Regions from separate parts of the Homo sapiens genome. Here regions 1 and 3 are each reported to be linked to region 2. The links are microRNA targets in miRTarBase. Many come from high-throughput screens and were not tested one by one. Region 2 holds a microRNA gene; each other region holds the end of a gene's coding sequence.
The links. Region 2 holds the annotated microRNA hsa-miR-3144-3p (AUAUACCUGUUCGGUCUCUUUA, at 901-922, opposite strand). A microRNA usually pairs through its seed, bases 2 to 8, with sites in the 3' UTR of a target mRNA and lowers its output. Matches are read on the target gene's strand: a 7mer-m8 pairs with bases 2 to 8, a 7mer-A1 pairs with bases 2 to 7 and ends in A, and an 8mer does both.

Region 1 (3,261 bases), not on the chromosome of region 2:
TTTTCTACTAATGTTAAAAGAAGCTAACACATTTTCATAGGCTGCTAAATGTGTCATGATCCTTAGTTGCTGTGCCTGCTGGGCTGCCAGCCCTTTGGGGGACAAAGTTGGTGTCCCAAGAGAGGGAAGTGGGAGAGGGAGAGAGTGCCTGGCTCAAGTGACTCTCCTTTTCTGCCTGACAGTGCTGGTGGCCTCAGTTTACCCCCGGAAGCCTCAAGCTGTAGAGCGGCATGTCCTTCCCATCCTCTGGCACTTCCTGAACACCGCCACCAGGAATGGCACCCTGCCTGGACCCAGCGGGAACATCCGCGGGGTGGTGTGCCGGCTGTCCAGGAGCCTCCAGGAGCACATGGGCTCCCGCCTGCTGGACTTTGCCGCCAGCCAGCCAAAGCACGTCCTCAAGACGCTCCAGGAACTCTTAGACTCAGAGTCCTTGGGAGGCAGCCGCAAGGCCACTGACAGAGGGGTGGCCCCTGACAGCAAGACAACTGGCAGCTCATACCCTTTTCAGCTGGATTAAAGATGGATCTGAAATGGGCAATTATTATTTATCTTATTTTTTTGATGGACTATTCTCCTGGTTACTTTCCCCCTTAGAGTTCCAGATGTACATGGTATATTTTGAAGTAGAAATAAAAGAATTACTTATTTTTCTAAGGTTTTATTATCTTGTACTTTTTTAATCACAGAGAATTTTCCAGTAACTAGGTTTGTGATGAACGAAATGAAATGTGACAGCAGCAAAACCAGTTGCAGACAATGTTGAGACAAAGAGTTAGGAAGAAAAAGGGTAGCACAGCCCTGCAAGCTGCAGCCCGCTCGAGACGATAGTTGCCCATCTGTGAGCTGCTGGGCAAGCCCTCCTGAAACCCGCAGCCTGAGTTGGTCATCGAATCCAGTCCATTTGTTATGGGCCTGATTGGAGGTGAGTGTAACAAACGTGTTCAGGGACATCGTGCTTCTGCCCTGCAAAAGCTGCAGCACGTGTCTGTTGGTCCTGTGGGAACCTTCTGATCGGCCCAGCTTATCAAAAGACAAGGGGAATTTGAGATTTGCATCACTAAAAGCCTTCTCTAGAAGTTGGAGTTCTGGCTAGTTCTGAAGAGGACTAGACAATGCTTTGCCATTGAAACACCCTAAATGGAGATGCATGTGGAGCGTAAAGTGCTACCAGTGTGCAGATGCTGCCGAGTCTCTGAAACTGCACAGGCTGCAATTGTGGGCCACATCACAAGGCTGGAGGGGCGAGTGGGCACAGCACGGGCCAGGACTTGTGGAAGCAGGGAAGGTGTTGGCCCCTGGGGGAACAGCCAGTGAAATGAAGTCCCGGCAGTGGAGAGGGAAGTCTGGGGCTCAGGCTCTGGACACTTTAGGTAGGAGTGGCTCTGCCTTGGCTGGGGCCAGTGGCAGGTTAACAACTGTGTGACCAGAAAGAGTTAGAGCTAAGGCCATGACCTCAAATGCACAGGCAAGGCAGGCCTGGTAAGGCAAAGGCTGAAGAGGCAGCATCCCAGCTCTTGCAGGGGAGCCCAGCCTGCAGCCACGTGCTGGGGCAGATCCAGACGACCGAGGCCCTGAGGGCCCAGCCTCATGCCAGCAAGTTTTCTGGCAGACACCCCCCTCCCCTGCCCTTCCCCAGTGGAACCTCTTTCCACTGTCATCTGCCCCCCAGGCCTAACATCCATTCCACATCCCTGTTCTGAGCCTCTCCTGGGGAGTCTGGCTCTGGAAAGCCCCGAATCTACTCACTTATGTATTTCCATACCCCACCAGGCTGAGGAAGCCACTTTCCCATCTTGCCTCTGTGGCAGGTGTAGTTAGTCCGGCCCCTCCTTACGCCCTGGGGTGAGGTTGGGCCTGCGAGTCATCCCGGGCCTTGGGCTTGTCATAGGCGGCTTAAGAGTGACTTTGGGTAATTCTAGCCCAGTGAGCTGCTTCTCACCTGATTGTGACCCCAGCAGGGGCTTCCCTGCGACCATCTAGCTCTTTGTTGATTCTGATTGAACCAGGTTAAAGGCCTGCTAGACAGGCAGCCATCCAAAAATGCCCAAGAGGCTGACAGTAAATGTTTTAAGTGTTGAACAATTTAATGAATTGCATTTGCCTGTCATCTGAGCAAATGTTTTTGGTTTGGTGAGGAGACTTGCATTTTCTGCTTTTATCCTAGAATGTATCAGAACATTTCAGGGTTTTTTAGATCCCTAGGAGGCCAGGGACGTAGAGTCTGGCAAGGATTTTGACGGCAGAAATGAAGCTTAGCAGTACTGTCCTGTCTTCCTGCCTTCCATGTGTGTTCTCACACAGGAAGCTTCCCATCCCATGGGCCTCCACCCACTCTCAGGGGCGGAGGCATTGAAAACAGCTGAAAACAGTGGAAAAGTGCAGAATACATCTTTGCACTGTTCTCTTTTCCCTCATTATTTCAGGTTTTATTAACCACACCTGTGGTGTGACGCTGCTGGGAGGCACTGGGTGGCTCTGGTGTACCTTGAGAAATTTCCATCTCCAAAGACTTCCTTACCTCATTACTTTTAAAATGAAGGGAAGACAGCATGTTGGTAACCTGGCCCTGGGCCTGTTGGGAATACCTGTGGGAATCTAATGGGACGGCCTGTCATGGGACATGAAGATTTTCCTAAGAGCTGGGGCTGGAGCTAAGCCCACACATACTTTGCTTGGTTCTGTGTGTGGCCAGGAACTCCACTTACATGAGATGCTCTTGGGGGTGGGAATACAGCCTCTAATGATGGAAGATTCTCTTTCTCTCAATCTCTCTCTCCATGTAACAAAAATGCAGGTGCAGTCACTCACTGCTTGCAGACTCCAGTGAACAAAAGGGAGGCCTGGTATAAAGAAACTGACTTTTTATTCCAAAGCTAGTTTAGGGGAAGAAGCTGCCTTGAAGGGTACTGTGTCGTTTTTGGAGCAGAAAGTGGGCACTTTTAAAGGGGCGGGGGGGGGGGTGCTGGCACGAATGGCATGCAGGAGAGGAAGCGGGCAGGTGGGGGAGTCCACATACTTGCTTTGATGACTTATGTAACGGGTGGTCAAGTTGGCATCTTCGTGGGCAGAACTAGGTTGTAAAGTGGCTGAAGCTCTCCGGGTGGGAGGGAGTTTCATAGTGGGCATATTTTGGGTTATTAATTGACTGTTGTGTCTCCAGGCAGTTTCCTGGTGGGTGCAAGTTCTGCTCTAGAGCTTCTAAGCACACAGTTAGATGAGCCTGCCCTGGAGGGAGTGTCTGGTAAAGGGGAGGTAAAA
Region 2 (3,261 bases):
CACTTTTTGATGGGGTTGTTTGTTTTTTCTTGTAAATTTGAGTTCTTTATAGATTCTGGATATTAGCCCTTTGTCAGATGAGTAGATTGCAAAAATTTTCTCCCATTCTGTAGGTTACCTGTTCGCTCTGTCGGCAATTTCTTTTGCTATGCAGAAGCTCTTTAGTTTTAATAGATCCCATTTGTCAACTTTGGCTTTTGTTGCCATTGCTTTTGGTGTTTTAGACATGAAGTCCTTGCCCATAAGTTTTCTCATTTTTCTTAGTCTAGCTAAAGGTTTGTTGATTTTATTTTTTCAAAATAGCAACTCTTGGTTTCAGCAATCTTTTCTAATGTTTTCAAGTCTATTTTTTTATTTTTGCTCAGATTTTTATTATTTTCTTTCTTTTACTGACTTTGGTCTTAGTGTGCTCATTTTTCTAGTAACTTGAGAAATAATGTTAAGTTGTTAATAATGTTCTTTTTCTGACATAGGTATTTATTGATATAAACTTCTACCTTAAAAGAACTCCTTTTGCTGAATCCCATAAGTTTTGGCATGTTGTGTGTTCACTGTCTCAAGATATTTTTTAATTTCCCTTTTATTTTTCTCTTTGAATCGTTCATTGTTAAAGGTCACGACTTTTAAATTTCCATTTATTTGGAAATTTTATGAAATTTTTAAAATTATTTATAGTATCATACCATTGAGGTCAAAAAAGATATGTAGTATAATTTTAATATTTTTAAATTTGTTAAGGCCTGTTTTGTGGCCTACCCTGCAATCTATCCCAAAGAATGTTTCATGTGCCCTTAAGAACATGTATTCTGCTAATGTTGGATGAAATGTTCTATATCCATAAGTTATATATGTCTCCATTGATATGTATATATCCATTAAAAAATCAGTTAAACTACACTTTAAAGAGACCGAACAGGTATATAGGTAGCTGATATCTATATATCTCTTTGGTCCCCTTAAAGTGTAGTTTCAGTCTGATGTTTTCCTGTAGATTTTCTTTCTGAAGAATAACCATTTTTGGAAGCTGGATAGTGAAGTTTCCTTGTATTTTCTCCATTCATATATATTAATATTTGTTTTATATATTTAGGAGCTGTGATGTTGAGTACATTTGTATTTAGAATTGTTATGTCCTCTTGATAAGTTGACCTCATTATTATATAGTGACCTTCTTTGTCTTTTACAATTTTTGATGTAGTCTACCTTATCTAGTATAGATATTTCTGCTCTTTTGGTTTCCATTTGCATGAAATCTTTTTTCATTCCTTCACTTTCAGTCTATGTGTGTGATTAAAGGTGAGGCGAGAATTTTATAAGTAGTATAGAGTTGGGACTTTTTTGTATCTATTTATCTACTTTTTATTGGAGAATTTAATCCATTTACACTCAAGGTAATTATAGATTTACTACTGTCATTTTTTAATTGTTTTCTAAATGTTGTATAGATCCTTCGTTACTTTTTCTTGATGGCTTCCTTTTGGATTAGGTAATTTTCTCTAGTGATATGCTTCGATTCCTTACCTTTTATTTTTGCGTATTTACTATAGGCTTTTGTTTTGTGGTTAGCATGATGTTTACATAAAATATTGTATATTTAAAACAGGCTAATTTAAATTGATAACTTGACTTTGATTGCATTAAAACTTTTTACCGTCACATCTTATGTTTGACATCACAATTTATATGTTCTTCTATTGTGTATCCCTTAAAAATTATTATAGCCAGCTATTATTTTTAGTAGCTTTGTCTTTTAACATTCATATTAAGAATAAAAGCAGTTTATATACCATTACATTATTATAGTATTTTGAATTTGACTTCTTAGTTTTACCAGTCATTGTTATACTTTCATATTTTTTCATGTTGCTAATTTTCTTTCAGCTTATGGAATTCCCTTTATCATTTCTTGTACAACTGATCTGATGGTGATGAATGTGCTCAGCTTTTCTTTATCTAGAGAGTTACCACAAATGTGCCAATAACATACACTGGGTAAAAGACAGTCTCTTCAATAAACAGTGCTGGGAAAACTGGATATCCATATGCAGAAGAATAAAACTAGACCCCTATCTTTTGCCATGTACAAAAATAAAATCAAAGTTGATTAAAGACTTAAATCTAAAACTTCAAAGTATAAACTACCAGTAAACATTGGCAAAAATCTCCAAGACATTGGTATGGGCAAAAAATTCTTGAACAATGTCCCAGAAGCATAGGCAACCAAAACAGAAATAGACAAATGGGATCACATCAAGTTAAAAAGCTTCTGCACAGCAAAGAATACAATCAACAAAGTGAGTCAACTCACAGAATGGAAGAAAATATTTGCAAACTACCCCTGACAAGGGATTAATAACCGGAATATATAAAGATCTCAAGAAACTCTACAAGAAAAAAATCCAATAATCTGATCAATAAGCAAAGCCTTGAATAGACATTTTTCAAAACACATACAAGTGGCAAACAGGCATATGAAAAGGTGCTGAACATCATTGATCAGAGAAATGCAAATTAAAACTACAATGAGAAATATTTCACCACAGTTAAAATGGCTTATATCCAGAAGACAGGCAATAAATTTTGTCAAGGATGTGGAGAAAAGGGAACCCTTGTACACTATTAGTGGGAATGTAAATTTGCATAACTACTACAGAGAAAAGTCTGGAGGTTCCTCAAGAAACTAAAAATAGAGCTACCATATGATCCAGCAATCCCACTGCTGGGTATATACACAAAAGAAAGGAAATCAGTATATTGAAGAGGTAGCTGCACTCCTATGTTTGTTGCAGCAGTATTTACAATAGCTAAGATTTGGAAGCAACCTAAGTGTCTCTCAACAGATGAATGGATAAAGAAAATGTGGTACATAAACACAACGAGTACTATTCAGTCATAAGAAGAATGAGATCCTGTTATTTTCAACATGGATGGAACCGGAGATCATTGTGTTAAGTGAAATAAGCCAGGCACAGAAAGACAAACATCATATTTTCTCACTTATGTGTGGGAATTAAATATCAAAACAATTGAATTCATGGGCATAGGGAGTAGAAGGATGGTTGCCAGAGGCTGGGAGGCATAGTGGGTGGCTGGGCAAGTGTTGGGGATGGTTAATGGGTAAAAAAATAGTTAGAAAGAATAATACCTACTATTTGATAGCACAACAGGGTGACTATAGTCAGAAATAATTGTACATTTTTAAATAACTAAAAGGATATAATTGAATTGTTCTTAATACAAAGGATAGTAAGCTTGAGGGGA
Region 3 (3,261 bases), not on the chromosome of region 2:
GAGTGCAGTGGTGTGATTATGACTCACTGTACCCTCAAGCTCCCAGGTTCAAGTGATGCTCCTACCTAAGCCTTCTGAGTAGCTGGGTAGGGATTACATAGGTGTGCACCACCACACTCGACTAATTTTTGTATTTTTTGTAGAGATGGGTTTTCGCCATGTTGCCCAGGCTGGTCTTGAACTGGGCTCAAGCAGTCGAACCACCTCAGCCTTTCAAAGTGCTGGGATTACAGGCATGAGCCATGGAACTTAAATCATTTTTGAAACATAGTTAATAATGGCCTTCTCAAATTAAGTCAGCTAGTAGAAAAAAGTCTAACATTTTACATCGAGTCCAAAGCTAGTTTGGGGGAAAAGGCTTTTGATCTTTAAATGCCAAGGGGAAAGGTATTTTATCTGTCAAGAGATGATACAATTCAGTGGAATAAAATGTGTATCCACACAGATGACTTTTGCTTCTACCAATTTTATCTTTTATAAAACCCTGACATGGCCGGGTACAGGGGCTCCTGCCTATATCTCAGCACTTTGGGAGCCAACGGGGTAGGATCGCTTGAGCCCAGGAGTTTGAGACCAGCCTGGGCAACACAGTGAGACTTCATCTTTACAAGAATAAAATAAAAAAATTAGCCAGGCATGGTGGTGTACCTATGTAGTCCCAACTACTTGGGAGGCTAAGGTGGGAGGATCACTTGAGCCCCCAGAGGTTGAGGCTGCAGTGAGCCATAATTGTGCCACCATACTCCAGCCTGGGCGACAGAGACCCTGTCTCAAAACAAAACAGGCCGGGTCAGGGTGGCTCACGCCTGTAATCCCAGCACTTTGAGAGGCTGAAGCGGGAGGATTCCTTGAGCTCAGAAGTTCAGACCAGCCTGGGCAACATCAGACCCTGTCTCTTTTTTTTTTTTTAAAGTAAAACAAACAAAAACAAAAAAAAAACTCATGATCCTTTTGTGGTTCATAAGCATGATGATTGGGTATTCACACCCACGTGTGAGATGTGCCTCCCTCAAACCTTGTTACAACTTCAACCATTACCCATCTGACAGTAAAAAAAAAAAAAAAAAAAAGTAAAATTTTAAAAATCATGTCTTATTTCAGCATCTTATATTTTTAAAAACCAATATTTTGGTAGATGACAAATTTATACCATTAATAACTTTATTTTTTTTTCTTTCCTCAACTTTTGTTTTAGGTTCAGGGGATACCTGTGTAGGTTTGCTACATGGGTAAATTGTGTGTTGCTGGGGATTCGTGTACAAATGATTTTATCACCCAGGGAGTGAGCATAGTAACCAATAGCTAGTTTTTCGACCCTCGCCTTCCTCCGAATCTGCCCCTTCAAGGAGGCCCTGGTGTCTATTGTTCCCATCTTTGCGTTCATGTGTACTCAATGTTTAGCTCTCACTGATAAGTGAGAACATGTGGCATTAATCACTTTAAAACATAGTATGACAGATATCATTTTCTTACAGAGCATCAGATATTAATATGTATGGATCACTTTGTTAAATTAACAAAAATCATCTGAAAATCAGCACAATATTTCATTTATTTATTGTATAAGTTTGGCAAACAGCACAAAAATCCAGCAACATTTAAAACATATAAAAAAGTCAAATGCTAAACAGGACTAGGGATTTTTTTTTACATCATTAGAAATAACGAGTACACATTTTAAGATTCTGCAAAGCTAGCAAAATGAAGATGCTTGCCTTCTGAACATATACTACAAACACACATACAAAAAAACAATATAATTTATCTTTACAAAAATTACAGCCAAGCAATAGAAAAGAAGGATGTTAATGATGAAGATAGCAACACATATGTTTAGTACATATATCTTACACATTGAAATGCTACATCTTATACCCTGAAATGCCATGTGTAGAGAGCCAAGCAGAGTAAATTTAGGCTCATTACTGAGGTTAAGAATTATTTGAGAAGAATTTAATTCTTATATGTAACATATTCAGTTAAAACTTTCTATATAGGAGTTGCTAGAGGATGACAATGTATCCCATTATAGATCTGAGAAGTTGAGTCTTCTTTGTTGGCAGTATAAAATTTCTGACCAGTATCAAAATTCTGGTAAAACACAAATTGAAGGCATTTTCTAGTGTATGCAAACATTACAAGGGGCATCAATGAATGTAGAAGAAAATCGTAGATTTTTCACATCAAGTTTCTGCTGAGCTTTGTCAAACCAAATAGCTCAACTATAAGGCAAGAGAAAACAACTCCCTATAACAGATTAGTGGATCTTACCAAGTAAATATAGGAATTCAATCTTAGGGAAAAATTCCCTACATTAATAGATCTGAAACAGCTGGTCTTGAAACAAACATCTAGAAATTAACGAACATCTTGACATTCAGTCATTGGTTCAGAAGCGTGACAAACAATCTGTTGGTATATATTATTAAATTAACTTTTTGGAATCAGCACCAGTCCCCAAAACCTCAAATTATAATATTTAATCTTCATTAAAATATATTTTTTGTGCTACATTAACACGACCACAATTAAGTTAAAGAAAGCTGAATTTATTTAACTTATTGTATATGTTTATGTATACTAGGTAGTGACTTAAATTTCTTTTATTTACTTGTGCTTCTGTTTTGGGGCACTTTGATTGAAGAGAAATTCAATTCACAGGATTACATCTTGCTAAAGCATTCCTTAGCATTGGTCCAAACTTGAATTCCCTAAAAATAAAAATAAAAACTTTAAAATGTGAGTTTGGAAGGAATCTGAAAACCCAAGTACTTGGCTTAGTGGTACACTAAGTTTTGCTTTTTGGAATAATTAAGAAGTCGAGAAAATATGACACTATTTTGGGAAGTGGCTAATATAAGCAAATGTCTAATGCTTCTGAAAAGAGAAACAGAATCTCTAATACGAACTTATCTTCAAAATGGAAAAAGAACTCCTACAACTTGTTGGAAAACTGAGTTAATTCATTTCATATCACATACTCGAGTAATTTCTATTTGTAAATCAAACAAGTTTTCAGTCTTTTTTTTTTTTTGGAGATAGGGTCTCACTCTGTTACCCAGGCTGGAGTATAATCATGGCTCATTGCAGCCTTGACCTCCAGGGCTCAAGGGATCCTCCCACCTCAGCCTGCCAAGTAGCTGGGATCACAAGTGCACGCCACCACACCTGGCTTATTTTTTGTATTTTTTTTTTTTTTTGTAGAAATGGAATCTCACTATGTTACCCAGGCTGGTCTGGAATTCCTGGGCTCAAGCGACC

Region 1: miRTarBase lists TOGARAM2 as a target of hsa-miR-3144-3p. The part of its 3' UTR that is shown has no 7-base or 8-base seed match.
Region 3: the mRNA of SNX4 is a reported target of hsa-miR-3144-3p. Seed matches in the 3' UTR shown: 7mer-A1 at 1,870-1,876.

What each region holds. Positions count from the first base shown.
Region 1 is chr2:29,051,574-29,054,834 of GRCh38, forward strand. TOGARAM2 (TOG array regulator of axonemal microtubules 2) reads left to right here. Exons shown (of 20, transcript NM_199280.4): 20 at 183-657. The coding sequence ends at 520. Among named protein-coding and RNA genes, the nearest start is that of PCARE, 21 kb to the right of the region's middle. RefSeq lists an enhancer at 1,382-1,892.
Region 2 is chr6:120,012,887-120,016,147 of GRCh38, reverse strand. MIR3144 (microRNA 3144) reads right to left here and starts at 969; the gene lies at 891-969.
Region 3 is chr3:125,445,116-125,448,376 of GRCh38, forward strand. SNX4 (sorting nexin 4) reads right to left here. Exons shown (of 14, transcript NM_003794.4): 14 at 1,535-2,711. The coding sequence ends at 2,664. LOC124906351 (small nucleolar RNA U13) reads left to right here and starts at 946; the gene lies at 946-1,048.